Linked DNA regions of Homo sapiens: region 1 is linked to region 2. Evidence: fine-mapped expression QTL. A gene starts in region 2. The other region holds a variant in brackets. All regions are shown on one strand. Distances are between the middles of the regions.

The links.
Region 1: its variant is fine-mapped to the expression of TIMP1 in whole blood (TOPMed, PIP above 0.99).

The regions. Positions count from the first base shown.
Region 1 is chrX:47,603,079-47,612,319 of GRCh38, reverse strand. It overlaps SYN1 (synapsin I), which reads left to right. Exons shown (of 13, transcript NM_006950.3): 2 at 5,122-5,179; 3 at 5,284-5,375; 4 at 6,941-7,097; 5 at 7,253-7,342. Among named protein-coding and RNA genes, the nearest start is that of SYN1, 12 kb to the left of the region's middle. The variant C/T (reference allele first, on the strand shown) is at 4,319.
Region 2 is chrX:47,577,076-47,585,795 of GRCh38, reverse strand. It overlaps TIMP1 (TIMP metallopeptidase inhibitor 1), which reads right to left and starts at 3,360. Exons shown (of 6, transcript NM_003254.3): 1 at 3,322-3,360; 2 at 2,260-2,388; 3 at 781-860; 4 at 465-591; 5 at 129-253. The coding sequence starts at 2,380. SYN1 (synapsin I) reads left to right here. Exons shown (of 13, transcript NM_006950.3): 6 at 8,295-8,357. RefSeq lists silencers at 3,403-3,502, 3,563-3,712, 6,043-6,216, a cis regulatory region at 5,830-6,350 and an enhancer at 8,052-8,346.

The DNA.
Region 1 (9,241 bases), 26 kb before region 2:
GAACTTCTGGATGCACAATCATTTGGTGCCTGGTCAAGCATTCTGTCTCTATCAGGGCCCAGCACCTCAATGGGGTGTCTTTCTCAAAAGGCGTAAAATTCTCTGCTGCAGATGGCATGGCTTTGCTCCAGAACCCCAAGGGCCTCCCACTCAGGCTTCCCATAAGCTCCTCACTGCATCTTTCCCCACTACTGACACCTCCAGTATCATAAGATCTGCCAGATCATCTGGCCTAAATGGCAGGACTGCTTGTACCACAGCCTGGACCTGCTGCAGAGCCCTTTTCTGCTCTGGCCCTCACACAAAGCTGGTAGCTTTACATGTCGCCTGGAATATGGGTCAGAGCATTATTTGTGTGTGGGGGACATGCTGCCTCCAGAATGGGAAGAGGCCTCCTAGGTATTGTGCTTTCCTCTTCATGGTGGAAGGTGCGTGATTCAATGCTTTGCTCTATTCTTTGGAGGGGCTGTCCTGGTTTACTGCCCTGGACCACTGGATTCCTAAAAATTTTACTAATGCATCGGTCCCCTGAGTCTTTGTGGAGTTTATCCTCCACCCTCTGTAGTGGATGTGTCTTACCAGGGCAATATGCTCACCCTCTCTTGCTCATCTTGCACAATCAGTATGATGTAATCCATGTGGTGGTCCAGTGTGCTATTCCATGGGATGTCCAGATAGTCCAGGTTTCTCTGGACTATATTATGACACCAGGTGAGAGAGATAGCATAGCCCTACAGCAAGACCATCTATGAATATTATCATCAGTCTCATGTGAGTGTAAACTGTTTCTGATCCTTTTTTCTAATCAGAATAAAAAAGAATGCATTTGCCAAGTCAGCAGCCACCTGCTGTACCTGAGGTCTTATTAATCTGCTCTGGCAATGACAGCGTGTCCAGTATGGCAGGTATAACTAAGGGTACTACTTGATTGTGCTTGCAGTAATCTGCAAGCATTCTCCAGGACCCATCTGACCTCTCCAGGGGCCAGACTGCTCAACTCGATGGAGATAAGATGAGACCAACACCCCTGCATCCTTTAGATCTTTCAATGTGGCATTGATTTCCATCATCACCCATAGGATGCACACAATATTGTTTGTGGTTTATTGTTTTGTTCAGGGCATGGGGGTGTGCGCCATTTTAGAAGCTTCTATTTGGACTTCCCTACTGAAACAGCTCTTATCCCACAGGCTGAGGAGCCCATGTAGGGGTTCTGACAACTACAAAGTATGCCATTGCAATTACGCATTTGTGAACTGAGGAAGTGACCACTGGGTGGGTCTCTAGACCCACCAGACCCACTGTAAGCAGGACCTGGGCCAGGACTCATTTATCACCTTACCACTACTGTGCTTCTCAGCGTGACTGGTACCACCCTCACCAGCATGTTTCTTATTAATTTCATAAGTTGAGTGTATCCTCCAGGCCTTAATCAGCTGGTGGGTTTTCCAGACTTCAGTAGTATATCTACTCCAACATGTCTGCTTCTTTGAGCCCTTTAATCCTTCCCTGTGCAATCTGCCATGGAAGTTCTGCTTCACTTAGTGTGGGCCATTGTTTACTCCAGGTTTCCAAATACCAGTGTGTTAGTAACACTTCCTAGAGTCCTCGCCAGGGTTTTAAGTTCCGTATCCTGGGAGAGCACACCAACTTCCTGTTCTACCTCCTTCGCCCATTGTCCTCAGGATCCAGTCTCATGCATACCTTCCCAGCTCCTGCCAATACGTACTAGCCAGATTCTTTAGGTTCTTCTACAGATCATTTCTCTCCCTTTGCAAGCCTAGAACCTGTCCAGTCAGGTTTCACTAGGATTTCACCCTAATTTTTGGTCTGGTTTCCAGGAGGGTAGGTGGGGGGTAGACTCTGAGGGGGGCAGGCATTGTCTTACAAAGCACCTGCATCATCCGAGGCCTCTGCATTATCTTCAAGCAGAAGGTCTATATTCTAACTCAGGGGAGTAGTCTACTTCAGCAGGCCCAGTGGATGCAGGTGAGTCTGTAAGTTCAAGGTGTTTAACTGCATCTGCCCAGATATCCCCATCTCAGAGTCCTACTCCTGTCCTATTAGGGACATGAGCATGGCCCAGGAGATGTGCTGGGCCTGAGAAGTCAACTTTCTCCGAAGCTCCGCCACCACGTAGAATTAAATTCTGAGCCTGGCCCTCCCTTCTGTCTGCCCTCTGACTGCAGGAGATGAGGGTTTCCTTAAATGCAGTCAGGGAGATCCTCTGGCTTTCACATTTTGCCTTGAATTCACCCTGAGCATGTCAGGTCTTTCTTCAGCTACTCAATGGCGTTTAGGGAATAGTCACCCAAGTCTGGTTACCATTTCCCTGACATCACTCAAGTTCCAGGGATATTTCACCATCCAGTACATTCCCTTCCACCAGAATCCCATTACAGCCCACCATCAGGAAAAGTCACCGCTACTCCAAAACCCTGGGGGCCTGCGCTGTATTCTCCCACCTGGGAGAAGAAATTCCACACAGCATCTTTTCCTACTACTGACACCTCCAGTGTCATAGGATCTGCTGGATCATATGGCCTAAGTCACATCCTGCTTGCACCACAGCCCGGACCTGCTGCAGAGCACTTTGCGTTGCTACAGCATATCGGAGGCTATCTATGCCCCACCTCCCACTACTGATGGGTCCTCACTGCCATCTGGCTGCTGGGTAACCCAGCTCCAGAATTGCATTAGACCACCCTTGTAGTTTGACTTCCATGGCCCACTGTTTTAGGTTGGGTTCCCTGGAAAAAGACTTTGAGGTGGAGATTTGCATGCAGGAGGCTTACTGGAGTGTGCCATTGGGATCAACACTTGTGAGGAGGGTTGGGTTGAGCAGAGGAAGAGGCTGGCTCAAGATGTAGTTGCCTTAGGGGCCTCCGCTGCTCTTAGGGGGAGCCCTGGGGCTGGGAGGGTCCTTCAGAGTCAGCCCAGATTGAGGCAAGGAGGCTGGCCTTTCTTTCCCTTCATAGACCAGACCATGGGGATGCCCTCATGAAGTAGGTGTAACCTTGGACAAGGCAGTTCCCTGTGACAAGACAATTCCCAGTGGGGACACAGCCATGAGCTGTCAGTAGCTGCCATTCAAGGTACATTGTCCCTGAAGAGGAGGCCTGAGCAGACCACCACAGTATCCAACTACACTTATGGTCAGAAAAGTTTTAGAAACAGTGATACACCCTCATCATCCCCACTCATCAGTTTATAGATGAAAAATGTGCAGGGCTGAGAGAGATTCTCTCTCAACACTTCTGAGGGGATAGTGTCAGCGATGGTGTGTGTGTGTGTGTGTGTGTGTGTGTGTGTGTCAGAGAGAGAGCAAGGAAAAAGAAGTAGCTGTACTTGGGGTCTCTTGCATATGTCAGTCAAGTCACCAGGGTCCATTTGTGCCGTGTGTGTGTGTGTGTGTGTGTGTGTGTGTGTGTGTCTGTCCAAGACCCTGATTGTATGTGTGTCAGTGACCAGTAGCCCTGAAAGTGTCTCTCCCCCTCATCCCCCTTCCATGATAAACCTGATTGAGGATGAGCTTCCATCCCTGGAGCAAGCAGCCTGTTGGCTAGAAATCTTGAGCCTGGGGGAGGAGGCCACCGGAAACCAAGCCCAGCTGGGGACGGGCCCGGGGACAATGACATAGCAGTTCGTGATGTTCCTACTGCTGCTCCCACTCCCCCTCCCTCCTGTTGCTCCCTCTCCTCCTCAGCTGCATTCCTCCCTGCCCCCCATCATTGCCAGCTACACTGGCTTCTCTAGAGCCACCCAGCCTGCACCACTCAATCCACTCCTCCTTATCGGATGCAGCTGCCCACCTATGGCCATTGTGTTTCTCACAGCACACAACCACACATGGTGAATGTGCTCCTCCTTGCGAAAGGGCCAGAGAGCAGAGAGATGCTTCAGGCCACACAGCCAGACACAGGCACTGACATATACACAGGCACTAAAAAATACACAAAAACAGGCACGCTTCAGAGAAATGTAGTTTCTTTCTCTCCTTCCTTCCTTCCTTCCCCTTCCTTCCTTCCCCTTCCTTCCTTCCTTCCTTCCTTCCTTCCTTCCTTCCTTCCTTCCTTCCTTCCTTCCTTCCTTCCTTTCTCTTTATTTCTTTCTCTTTTTTGCCTAGGTCTTGCTCTGTTCCCCAAGCTGGAGTGCAGTGGTGCAATCACGGCTCACTACAGCCTCGACCTCCTGGGCTCAAGCCATTCTCCTGCCTCAGCCTCCCCAGTAGCTGGGACTACAGGCATGCACCACTATGCCTGGCTAGTTTTTGTTTTTTGGGTTTTTTGGAGATGGAGTCTCGCTCTTGTTGCCCAGG[C/T]TGGAGTGTAATAGCACCATTTTGGCTCACTGCAACTTCCGCCTCCTGGGTCCAAGTGATTCTCCTGCCTCAGCCTCCCAAGTAGCTGGGAATACAGGCATGCACCACTACACCTGGCTAATTTTGTATTTTAGTAGAGAAGGGGTTTCACCATGTTGGTCAGGCTGGTCTCGAACTCTTGACCTCAGGTGATCCACCCGCCTTGGCCTCTCAAAGTTGTGGGATTATAGACGTGAGCCACAGCCCTCGGCTTTTGTTTTTTTTTTTTTTTTTTCAATTTTTTTTGTAGAGATGGGGGTCTCTCTATATTGTCCAGGGTGGTCTCCAACCCTTGGCCTGAAGCAATCCTCCTACCTCCAGCCTCCCAAAGTGCTGAGATTACAGGCGTAAGCCACCGTACCTGGCCAGATAGGTGTTTTCTAAGGTTCTTTGCTGTTTACCGGTCTCCATGCAATTTCAAAGTATGTTCTAATTTACATAGTGCTGCTAATTTTGTGAAGTTTTTTTAAAAAATTTACAATGACAATGTGATGAGCAGACTAAATTTTGGGAAATACCTGCTCTCTGCAGTGTAAGGCCACATTTTACAGTTTGCAATGTCCTTTAATATTTTTGCAACTCCATGAGGATTACAACAGACATTATTCACAAAGCACTCTTGATTTTTTCAAAATATTTCAATAATTATAAGGCACTTTGTGGTTTCTTTAGTAGCATTGAAGGGGCAAAAGGGTCAAGGGCCTGTGTTTTGTCTTCCCTTCTGAGATTTCATCATTGACAGATGTGTTGTTTTTCCTCTCCAGGGCAAAATACTTCAAAGGGAAAAAGATCCATGGAGAAATTGACATTAAAGTAGAACAGGTAAGTTGGGACATTTGGACCTGGGGGTCAGTTGTCCATACTGCAAACTGAGTGGCCATTTTTGTGTGATGTAGGTGAATCACCAGTTTTTTTCTCCTTCCCAGGCCGAATTCTCTGATCTCAACCTTGTGGCCCATGCCAATGGTGGATTCTCTGTGGATATGGAAGTTCTTCGGAATGGGGTGAAGGTCGTGCGGTGAGTATAAGAAGGGTACCTTGGTGTTATGAGCAAGGCATAAGAACTCTCCCTTAGAGCTGGGGGAAAGTTCCTACCTCCCCACCCATCCTTCTGTGGGCAAGAACTTAGGCATGGAATGTGGGGAGACAACTTTTCTTCAGAAAAAGAGCCAGGGACCCCAGGATGCCACAAGTCAGACTTTAAAAAAAAATATATATATATATATATATATTTCAGACAGGGTCTTGCTCTGTCTCCCAGGCTGGAGTGCACTGGCACAATCATGGCTCTCTGCAGCTGCAACCTCTCAGGCTCAAGTGATCCTCCCACCTCAGCCTCCCAAGTAGCTGAGACTACAGGTGCGCACCACCATGCCTAGCTAATTTTTATGTTTTTTGTAGAGATGGGGGGGGTCCTCACTATGTTGCCCAGGTTTGTCTCAAACTTCTGGGCTCAAACAATCTACCTGCCTTGTCCTCTCAAAGTGCTGGGATTACAGGCATGAGCCGCCACACCCAGCCTTCAATTATTAATTAAATAAACATTTGCTAGACATCTGCTGCATGCCAGATGCTGCTCTCAGGACTTCATATTCAATAAATATTTATTGTACACCTACTGTGTGCCAGGAGATATTCTACATGCTGAAAGGCCAAAAAAAAAAAAAGAAAAAGAACCTGGGCCTTATGAAACTTACATTCTACTGTGAGATACACACAATACACAAATAAATAAGAAAATGTAAAAGTGCTAAGAAAAAACATAACAGTGGCCGGATGTGGTGGCTCATGCCTATAATCCCAGCACTTTGGGAGGCCAAGGTGGGTGGATTGCTTGAGCCCAGGAGTTCAAAATCAGCCTGGCCAACATGGTGAAACCCCGTCTCTACTAAAAATAAAAAAATTAGCCAGGCGTGGTGGCAGGTGCCTGTAATCCCAGCTACTCGGGAGGCTGAGGCAGGGAAATCGCTTGAACCCGAGAGGCGGAGATTACAGTGAGCCATGATTGCTCCAGCGCCTGGACAACAGAGCAACAGTCCGTCTCAACAGAAAAAAAAAAAAGAAAAAAATATATATATAGCACTAAAGCAGATGTAGCAATTGTTGGATGATGGTGGGGTCTGCAGTTGGGATAGGGTGGCCTGGTTGCAGGAGAGACATTTGAGGAAAGACCTGATGGAGGTGAAGGAGTGATCCATGCAGATATCTAGGGGGGAAGTGCTTTAGGCAGATGGAACAGCCTTGGTAAAGGTCCCAAGGTTAGAATTTATTCTGGGCAGAACACTGAAGACAGCTTGCAGTCTGAGAGATGGTGACCAGGGAGTTGTCAGAGCTGTGTCGGTAAGCTGCAAGCTGACCTTGCTGAGAAGGGAACAGGTAGGAGAGGCTTAAAGGGGATCACCAGGTGGGCAGAGGGTAGAAAGGGTGCACTAGGCAGAGGGAACAGCTCACACATGTGTGCAGAGGTGAGAAACCACTTTGCAATTTCTGGGAGCTATGGAGATTTAAAAACTTGGTCTTTGTTTCGAGAGTGATTGGGAGCTTCTGGGGGAACTCTCAACACTCCTACCCCTGCCACACTAGGTCTCTGAAGCCGGATTTTGTGCTGATCCGCCAGCACGCCTTCAGCATGGCACGCAACGGAGACTACCGCAGTTTGGTCATTGGGCTGCAGTATGCTGGAATCCCCAGTGTTAACTCCTTGCATTCTGTCTACAACTTCTGTGACAAGCCCTGGGTGGTAAGTAACAGGAAGGGTGCCACTGGCAGAGGGAACAGCTCATGCATGTATGTGGGAGCTTGAAACCAGTCTGCGATTTGGGGAAGTGAGGGTGTTCAGAAACTTACAGATTCGTGGTGAAGGACTCACTGACCCAGCTCTCCTGGTTCTCATAGTTTGCCCAGATGGTTCGACTGCATAAGAAACTGGGGACAGAAGAATTCCCTCTAATTGATCAGACCTTCTACCCCAATCACAAAGAAATGGTGAGTTTGGGGAAAATAGAGTGGGCAGGAGGGAAGAGTCATAACTACTGCAATAATATTAAATATTGGTATATTATCAGCAGTGCGATATCAAGAGTGTGGCTGCTGTGTGCACGTGGAGTCATGAAGTTGCTTTGTGATAGGGTCTACCGTGAATTTCCTTATGCTTACAAGGAAAACTAAATCATGATCCATTCTAATATGTATCAGATCCTGTTACTCATGTTGTCTATTTTTGCCAGTATTAAAAACCTATTTCTAATGTGAATTGACAGAATTAATGTAATGAATCAGAATATATTACATATAGAAATTAAGTCATTATTACTAACATTATCAAATATTCCTTCTGATAGAAATTTTACCTATATTCAAATTAGGATTGCCAATAACATTTATCAATAATAATGTTATAAATTAAATTGTTGGCAAGGCACGGTGGCTCATGCCTGTAATCCCAGCACTTTGAGAGGCTGAGGTGAGCAGATCATGAGGTCAGGAGATCAAGACCAGCCTGGTCAACATAATGAGACCCCGTCTCTACTAAAAATACAAAAATTAGCTGGGCATGGTGGTGCGTGCCTGTAGTCCCAGCTACTTGGGAGGCTGAGGCAGGAGAATCACTTGAACCCGGGAGTTGGAGGTTGCAGTGACCAGAGATCACGCCACTGCACTCCAGCTTGGGCAACAGAGTCCCACCTCAGCCTCCCTCCTATTAATTAATTAATAGAAATTGAACTTTTGGTTACTATTATGAAATATAATCACTGGCCGGGCGCGGTGGCTCATGCCTGTAATCCCAACACTTCGGGAGGCCGAAGTGGGCGGATCACCTGAGGTCGGGAGTTTGAGACCAGCCTGACCAACATGGAGAAACCCTGTCTCTACTAAAAAAATACAAAATTAGCCCGGCGTGGTGGTGCATGCCTGTAATCCCAGCTACCTGGGAAGTTGAGGCAGGGGAATCGCTGGAACCCGGGAGGCGGAGGTTGTGGTGAGCCAAGATCACGCTATTACACTCCAGCTTGGGCAACAAGAGCGAAACTCCATCTCAAAAAAAAAAAAAAAAAATATATATATATATATAATCACTAATATTACAAATTATCACTAATATTATAAATTATTTTTACTGTTGTAAATTATGAGTACCTATGTCATGAATTAAATTATAGTTTCTAGTAGAAATTGAATAATCATTACTAATAGCATCAAAGATTATTGCTGTTATTACAAATGATTATTGCTATTACAAATTATGCTCTAATATAAATTATAAGTACCTGTTTTGACTTACATAAACATGGCATGCAGTGGAGACTACCACAGTTGGGTCATTGGGCTACAATGTGCCAGAATAAAATATGCTGAACGTTTAAATAATAGAAATTGAATTATCATTGCTAATATCATCAAATATAACAACTAATATTACAATGCATTACAGTGTTACAAATTAAGTTTATTACTATAAATGATTAGTACTTATGTTGTAAATTGTTATAATTATTTTTTAAAAATTTAAACCCAAAGTGGGAGGATCTCGTGAGCCCAGGAGTTTGAGACCAGCCTGGGCAACATAGCGAGACCCCATTTCTACAAAAAATTTAAAAATCAGCCCGGCATGGTGGCATACACCTGTAGTCCCAGCTACTTGGGAAGCTGAGGTGGGAAGATTGCTTGAGCCCTGGAGGTTGAGGCTGCAGTGAGCCATGATAGCACCACCGCATCCCAACCTGGGCAACAGAGTGAGACCCTGTCTCAAAACATTAAATAAATAAGTAAATAAAATTAAACCATTAGTACAAACAGTGTAAAAATTTTTACAGATATAACTATTACCAGTGTTACAAATTAAGATTACTAATATAACCCATGAGTACCTGTGTTTTGAATTAT
Region 2 (8,720 bases):
ACAGCCCTTAGGGTTGGGGAGCAGCCACAGGGACACAGAATAGCCAGAGGGAGCAAGAAACAAGCCCACGATTTAGGGAATGGCCCCGGGAAGGATCTCCCGTTGGAGGTCAGGGTCCAGGCACTCACTGTGCATTCCTCACAGCCAACAGTGTAGGTCTTGGTGAAGCCCCGGCGCTGAGCTAAGCTCAGGCTGTTCCAGGGAGCCACAAAACTGCAGGTAGTGATGTGCAAGAGTCCATCCTGCAGTTTTCCTAAGGAGAAAGGCGGGGCGGGGACCGACAAGCAGCTTGTGATTGGCTGAGCTGCCAAGCTGCCAAAGGCCCGGCCTTCTGATAGACTGAAATTGGGGTGGTCCCCATTTCCAGTGGGACCATTCCCATCAGAGCCTCGCCCCCTCGTGGTTGCTAGGCCGCGCCCCAGGGACTGGTTGGTGTGGCACAGGGCGCGGGGACGGTGCCTCACCAGCAATGAGAAACTCCTCGCTGCGGTTGTGGGACCTGTGGAAGTATCCGCAGACACTCTCCATGGCGGGGGTGTAGACGAACCGGATGTCAGCGGCATCCCCTAAGGCTTGGAACCCTTTATACATCTGTTGATGGATGAGGGGAAGTGTCTCTTTTACTGACATAATCCTCCCACTCCAGGTTCTTCCCTGAAGTCATATAGCATCCCAAGATCACAGCCAACTTTCTCGCACCAACCAGTGGCCAGAAGTTTCTGTTTTGACCAGGAGGAAGATGTTAGAAAATGCTGGGAAAGAGGCGGGGGCAGGGGATACCTTGGTCATCTTGATCTCATAACGCTGGTATAAGGTGGTCTGGTTGACTTCTGGTGTCCCCACGAACTTGGCCCTGATGACTGCAGGAGAGGAGGGAAATATGAGTCAAATGGACTGCATGAGCCAATAAAAATAAGATCATCATCATCATCATCATCATACCAGCAAAGCGCATACATAAATAGGGGTTATTGGATGCCAGACAGCACACAAAGTGATTTACACATTTGTTCATTGATTCATCTGTATGTTGAGTGTCTCTCTTTGCCGGGCACTGCTTAAGCCATTTTCATACATTGATTTGTTCATTTACTCCTCAAATATTTGGGAGTGCCCACTGTGTGCCAGACATTGTTCTGGGTGTTAGGGACACAACAGTGAACAAAACACAGAAATCCCTTTCCTTGTGGAGTTCACATTCTAGCCAGGAGGAGACAGGCTAAGAACAAACAAAATAAGGATATGGAATGTTAGACATTAAGTATAATGGGGAATTACAGACCTGGGTAAGGGGCTGACAAAGATTCTTTGCTTGACCAAACTTTACTCAGGCTCCTGAACCTCCTCCTAGGCCCATCTGTGCACTTCCTTGTAAAATCCAGTTTTAGCCGAGAGCCTTGCTAAGTCAGTTTAGCAAGAACCCCTATATTCTATATCTGATCATCCTCAATCTCTGATCATCCTCAATACCTGATCATCCTCAATCTCTGATCATCCTCAATACCTGATCATCCTCAATCTCTGATCATCCTCAATACCTGATCATCCTCAATCTCTGATCATCCTCAATCTCTGATCATCCTCAATACCTGATCATCCTTGCTATCTGACTGGGTTCTTCATCTTCCACCATCCCCCAGGTGATGTCTGATTCCCCTTGGCCTGCCTTCAGCAAGAATCCTGTTACGTCGGTTTAGCCAGAATCCCCCTTACCCCTGATGTTTCTTCTTAGTAATTTCCACCCACAGACCCTCACACTGCTCCTTAGCTACACATTCCCACTGGCCCATGCTATATTCAGTGTTGAGCCCAATCTCTCCCACCGACTGCAAGATCCCATTGCAGTGGTTCCTATACCCATCACCATGGTCCTGAATATGGTCTTCCTTACTGTGTTATAACAAGTATCACTGAATATTTTTCTGTTTAACAGGAGATCAGGAGTACTAAGGGGCAGGGGTTAAAATTTTAAACAGGATGGCCAGGGAAGGCCATCCTGAGAAGGTGACGTTTGAGGCAGCCACCCATGTGGATACCTGGGGGGAAAGTGTACCAGGCAGAGGGAGCAGCCAGCATGCAGATCCTGTGGTGGGCTTGGGCACAGAGTACTCAAGGAAGTGTGAGGATGCCAGTGTGGCTAAAGCAGAGGAAGTGCAGGGGCGAGTGGAATCATTCTAGAGGTAAGTGCCATGGTGAGCCCCACTGGACTGAAAGGGAAACCAAGGCAGAGTGTGTGGGCTGAGTGGGGTGAGGACTCACCGAGGTCGGAATTGCAGAAGGCCGTCTGTGGGTGGGGTGGGACACAGGTGCAGGCCCTGCTGGGGGCTATCAGCCACAGCAACAACAGGATGCCAGAAGCCAGGGGCTCAAAGGGGGCCATGGTGGGTTCTGTGGGGAAGGGGGATGTCAGGCAGGCCCCGGCCCAGCTGATCTGCTGACCTGGGCAGGTCATCCACCCCATCTTGCCCCGGGGCAGCCTATGGGGGGGATTAGGGGGCTGGATTTGGGCTTGAGGGGTTGGTAAGCTTAGGGATTTTAAGGGGATTGGGGAGCGCAGAGGAATTTAGGGTTTAGAGAGTTGGGAGAGTTTAAATTATTGAGGGACTGAGTGAGTTGCGGGGTTATGGGGTTGTGGCACTTGGGGGAGAAGGGGGCTGAGGAAGTTTGAGGAATGAGGGGATTGGGGAATTCTGGAGGTTGAGGAGTTTGGGGGTGAGGAATTTGGGATTGGGGGCTGGAGGAGTTTGGAGACGGCAGAGTTTAGGGGTTGTGTATATTAAGAGATATAAGAGGCTGGGGGAATTTAGGGAGGTTGAGGAATTTGGAGGAGGTTGGGGGTTTAGGGAGCTGGGGGAGTTTGGAGGTTGAAGGGGTTGGGGGAATTTGGGGGCTTAAGGCAATGGGGATACTTGAGGAATTTGAGGGCAAAAGAAGTTTGGGAGCTGGGGAACTGGGGATTGGGGAGCTGGGGGAGTTTAGGGAGCTGCAGGGGTTAGCGGTGGGTATTTAGGGGGCGATGAGGGAAATTTCGGGATGAAGGAATTTGCGGGGGGATTTGGAAAGCATTTGTGATATTAGGGGGTCATGGGTTTGGGGGAATTGGGGGCGGATGTCAGGGGTTCTAGGGAGTTTGGAGCCTCGGGGTTGGGAAAGCAGTTCCAGCCTCCGACCCTCTTCCCCCTAGACTAGCCCAGGGTCCTGGTACCCGCAGGCCAAGCTGAGTAGACAGGCATCTGGCACGGGAGTGCACGGGCCTGGTGGCCAGCACCCAAGCTGCAGCCCAGCTCCGGTCCCTGCTGGGCCACCCCGGGCCCTGCTTACCTCTGGTGTCTCTCTGGGCGCTGGATCTGCGGCGATGGCGGCAGGGCCTGAGCGCTAGAGGATAAATGTCCACGCTAGGGGCGGGGGTGGCAGCGGGTGCGGAAACCACAGGCCTCCAGGCTTCCTGGATGCATTACTCATCCACCCACCATCAGTGCAGAAGCCAAGGGGCGGGCCGACGAAAGGAGATACACCCTCCTCCTCTCCCACCCGCCTCCTCTCCCTCTCCCTGGGCCTCGCCCGGGCCAGCCACCTCCCCCACCTCCACGTCAGTCACTATTCCTTCCAAGCCGCCTCAGCGGAGAGCTTAGAGGCCGCATTTCCCCCGGCCCAGTCCCCTAAAGTCTCCAGAATCTATCCAATCACCCACATCCCCCAAGCTCCCTATGACTCAAACCCAAATTAGTTCAGCCCTTCAACATTTATTGTGCATCTACTGTGTGCCAAGCACACAAAAATCCCTTGTTTTGTATGTCTGACATGCTGGTGAGGGGTGGCAGAGAGGAAACAAATTAAGTAGCAGCAGTGGAGGGAGATAAGGCAGGTGAAAGGGGAGGAATACAAAATGGGGAAACTGAGGCACGGAGTGGTTAAGTGACTTACCCAGGATCACAGAGTCAATACATGGCAGAACTGAGACTGGAACTCAGGTGGCCAGGAGCCAAAGCCAGGGTCTCAAATAACACAGGCAAATAGCCGGCATTTATACAGCACCTACTGTATACCAGGCACTCAGCATAGTTTATCTCACTCAAAGCTCACAACAAATCTCTGAGATGGGTACCGGTTCTTATTCCCGTTTTACGGATGAGGAAATATGGGGCGTAGAGGAACTGTAGAATTTTCCTAAGATCACAGGGCATGGCCGGGATTCAAACAGAGGCTACCTGGCACCAGGGTTGTAACTCAGGAGTGGCACCGTCCTAGCAAGCAGGGAATGGTGCGGGTGAATGAATGAGCATTGGGAAGGGGGTGGCCATGAATGATGGTGAAAGAAGCAAGTGAGTGGGTCAGTAGAAAACTAATCCCCACCCCATCCTGCCCTGCCCCCTCCCCATGGACCTGTACCCCTGGTGGGGGGTGGGGTGGGGCAATCCTTGCCCACCAGCTTTCTGACAATGCAGGAACCTTCCCTGGGGTTCTGATTAACATCCTTAATTCGAGGAGGATAGATCAATAATAATAATTGTAGTGATGATGGCAGCCACTTATTGAGCACTTTCTGTGTACTATGTGCTAAAGTGTTTGTATAAATTATCTCATTCACTCACCATACTCCCTTGCTAATTAAGTTTGATTAACTCAGGGATGATAGCCCAATAACAAGAACACAACAAAAACTACCAGCAGCCCTTATGGAGTGCTTACTGCGTATCCAGCACTATTCTGGGTGGGAGGAATGTGAGGGATGAGAAATTGCCTAATGGGTACAATGTACACTATTTGGTTGATGGGGACACTAAAAGCCCAGACTTCACCACTATGTAATATATCCATGTCACAAAACTGCAGCTGTACCCTCTAAATCTATTTTTTTTTTTTGACAAGAGTCTTGCTCTGTCACCTAGGCTGGAGTGCAGTGGCGCGATCTCAGCTCACTGCAACCTCCGCCTCCGGGGTTCAAGAGATTCTCCTGTCTCAGCCTCCTGAGTAGCTGGGATTACAGCCACACCACCACCACCCCCAGCTAATTTTTGTAGTTTTAGTAGAGACGGGGGTTTCACCATATTGGTCAGATCTCGAACTCCTGACTTCAGGTGATCCACCTGCCTCGACCTCCCAAAGTGTTGGGATTACAGGCGTGAGCCACCACACCCGGCCTTCTAAATCTTTTTTTTTTTTTTAGACAGAGTTTCGATCTTGTTTCCCAGGCTGGAGTGCAATGGCAAGATCTTGGCTCACTGCAACCTCCACCTCCTGGGTTCAAGCAATTCTCCTGCCTCAGCCTCCTCAGTAGCTGGGGTTACAGGCACACGCCACCACGCCTGGCTAATTTTTGTATTTTTAGTAGAGACGGGGTTTCACCATGTTGGCCAGGCTGGTCTCAAACTCCTGACCTCGGGTGATCCGCCCACCTCAGCCTCCCAAAGTGCTGCGATTACATGCGTGAGCTACGGCACCCAGCCTAAATCTATTTTTTAAGAAAGCACTTGGCCGGGCATGGTGGCTCACACCTGTAATCCCAGCACTTTGGGAGGCTGAGGCAGGCAGATCGCTTGAGCTCAGGAGTTCAAGACCAGTCTGGGCAACATGGTGAAACCCTGTCTCTATTTAAAAAAAAAAAAAAAAGCACTGTTCTAAAGTCTTTTTACAGACATTATCTCATTTAATCAATCCCGATTGCCTCTTTGTTCATTAATGTTAGTTAAGGAAGAGATGTTAAGCCAATAATAAGAGTACCCAACACTTCTTGAGGATCGAGGCTTACTGTATGCCCGATACCATGTAGAGCATTTTTCCCAAAATAACTAACTTATTTCTCACAATATCCCTGTGAGTTAGATATAGCTCATGTTCTCATTATACAGATGAGGAAACTTAGACACAAAAGGGCTGAGTGACCTACCCAGGAATGAGAATGAAGAAATGGCTCTGCTGCGGGGTGGTGGGGGGAGGGTGGGGGGGCGACAAAAACAGGGAGGAAGGGAAGTAAACCAAAAAAATCTGTAGGAGCTGATTATGAAAGTGGGACAGTGAGAGTGAATGAGACGGGGCTGAGTAACCTGGTGCCTCCGAGGGAGAAGTGAGGGCAGGGGAAGTCCTGCCTTGGCCCCTCGCTGACTCTGGTTCTGACGCCAACTCTTTGAAACCTGAGTCAGCACAGAGTGTTGCCGACTGTTTACATGAGGAGTCGTGTGGATCCGGTTATTGTGCAGTTTTGAAATGGAGAGTGGGAGGGGTGTTCATGGAGGGGTGTGTGACCATCTGGGGAGCTGGATGGGTGTGGGGGCCCATGGGGGTCCAGGAGGCATGTGCAAAGCGGACACCTGACAATGCCCACAGCATACCAGGTGCTTGGGCCTCATTGTGCTCTTTGTGCAGATGGGGAAACTGAGGCTCAGGGAGAGGTTGTGTCCTTCATGGCCTTAGGAAGAAGAAAGGCCAAAATTCAGACCTAGGGCTTTCCAGGAGCTCCCAGAGTCAGAGTTCAAAGCACTCTGCATGCACACATGTATGGGCACACACACATATACAGAGCGTTGTGTTCAGGCTCAAGTCCAGAGAAAACAAGGACAGTTAACGAAAAGAGGCACCTAGAAACCTCAGGGTTGTTGGGGGAGGTATGGGTGTGTACGCACAGCTCTCTGGTGTGTTGTGTGTCCATTGCTAAGAGTCGAGCATGTGCCTGTGTGTTTTGTGTGTTACTTCTGGGAGTTGTCTACCAGCCTCGGCAAAGCGGATCTGGGTTGCATATGTAACTGAGTGCATTATGCACTTCTGTGTGCTGTGCGCACACCTGGGTGGTACTGTATGCATCCGCCTCGGCATCGTTTCCCTGGCCCGCTGCCCAGAGATGCCCCAAACCCCCGTCCCAACATCGTGCCTCTCAGCCCACCTCATAATGACGCCAGTCATTTGGGAAATGAGGAAGGGGGGGTGTGCAGAGGGAGGCCTTAAGGTCAATCGGTCACCCTGAGTCTGCGGGCTTCCTGTGCCTGTCGGGAACTGGGAACCACCACCGCCCCAGCAGCCCCTCCGGGAATGCCATCTCTCTACCTTGTCAGCGAGAGGGAGGGCCACCAGAGGGGCACTGTGCAGCTGTGCTGTGGGGGTGGGGGTGGAGGGAGCGGGGAGCCTAGGGCCGTCCAACCTGGTTTCCTCTACCCCATCCAGGAGCGGGGGAGACTTGAGGTATCCCTCTCGCCTGAATGTGTGACTGTATGTGTGTTGGGGTGGGAGTGCCCAGGAATGTTTTCTGCAAACTGAGTTGTGGGTGTCTCTGGTTGTGTGTAGCCTCTCTGTATTGTATATGTGGCAAGGCATGTTGTGTGTGTGTCTAGATATACTTTTTGTATGCCCAGGAATGTGGCGTGGGTCTCTTACGGGTCCCAGTGGTGATGTGAATACCTAGAAGTGCATACACCTCTGTGTGTTGTGTAGGGCCTTATTTGCTGTGCATTTGCCTAGGGGTGTTTTATGTGTGCCTGTGTGTTGAGTATGTGCCCGGTTCTGTGGAGTGTGCCTGTGGAGTTGTGTGTCTCTTGATTGGACGGGTAATCTTTTGTGTTGTGTGTGTTCCCCTGATGGTGATGTGGGTTTGGGTGAGGGGAGGGAACCTGGGTGTGTGCCCAAGTATTGATTGTGTGCCTAAGGGTGTCCAGTGTGTGCTGCCCTGGAGTGCTGGCTGCTGACCCACGCTATGGGCACCTGGCTGGCTGAATGACTGTGTGGGTGTCTGTGCTGCTCCAGAGCTCATGTGCTTTGAGCCTGTGTTGGCTGTCAGTCTCAATGTCACTGGCATCTCTGGGTTTGGCGATGTACATCTGAGTTCCAAGGGCTCATGCCTCTCAATAGTTTATGTGTGCAGGTGAGGCTTACATACAAGGTTTGGCTGAGGGGTTCAGTCACTACATGCTCACCACCACTCCCCACCCCCCCCACCCCCACACACACGCACTGGCACACACTTGCCTCACTATCATCCATCCACTGTAAAAACAAACTTTCTTTTTACTGGAACAGTCCCCCACGCTCATACCATGCCTCTGCCCGGGAAAGCAGGGGCGGGACGTCTGGAACTTGTTGGTGGGGTGGAGTGAGGGACAGACAGACAGGGCTCTGGGTTCAATTCTGGGCCCGGAGGTGGAGACACTGTGTGACCCCCAGCTGCTGCCTGCCTGTCTCTGACCTGTGTGTCCTGGGAAGTGACTCATAATGCAGTTCCCACTGGCTGGGATCCCCTCAGTGCCGCCCCACCCCTGGAGGTCACCCTTTCTGCCCTGAGCATGTCTCCTCTGCCTTTTCCCCACCAGCTCAGCAGTACAACGTACCCCGTGGTTGTGAAGATGGGGCACGCACACTCTGGGATGGGCAAGGTGAGTCTCTGGCTGGGCTGTGCATAGGTAGATGTGTATTTGTGCAATGCACACCAGTCATTCTGTGTGATCGCGTCTCCTGGGGTGTCGTTATCTATCAGGTTGGTGCAAAAGTAATTGCGGGTTTTGCCAGTTCTTATGGTAAAAACCACAATTACTTTTGCACCAACCTAATAGATTTTTGTTTTCTCACATTCAGCTGACCTCATCGACCCCTTTTTCCTCCTGCATTCAGCCAATTTTGTGTGTCCTGTTATTTTGCTTGTCTCCAGCATCGTGTCTGTGTGTACATGCATGCCTGTGCCGAACACACATGATGTGGTGTGATCTTTTATGTTCCAAAGTCTTGGGGTCCTGTGTGCT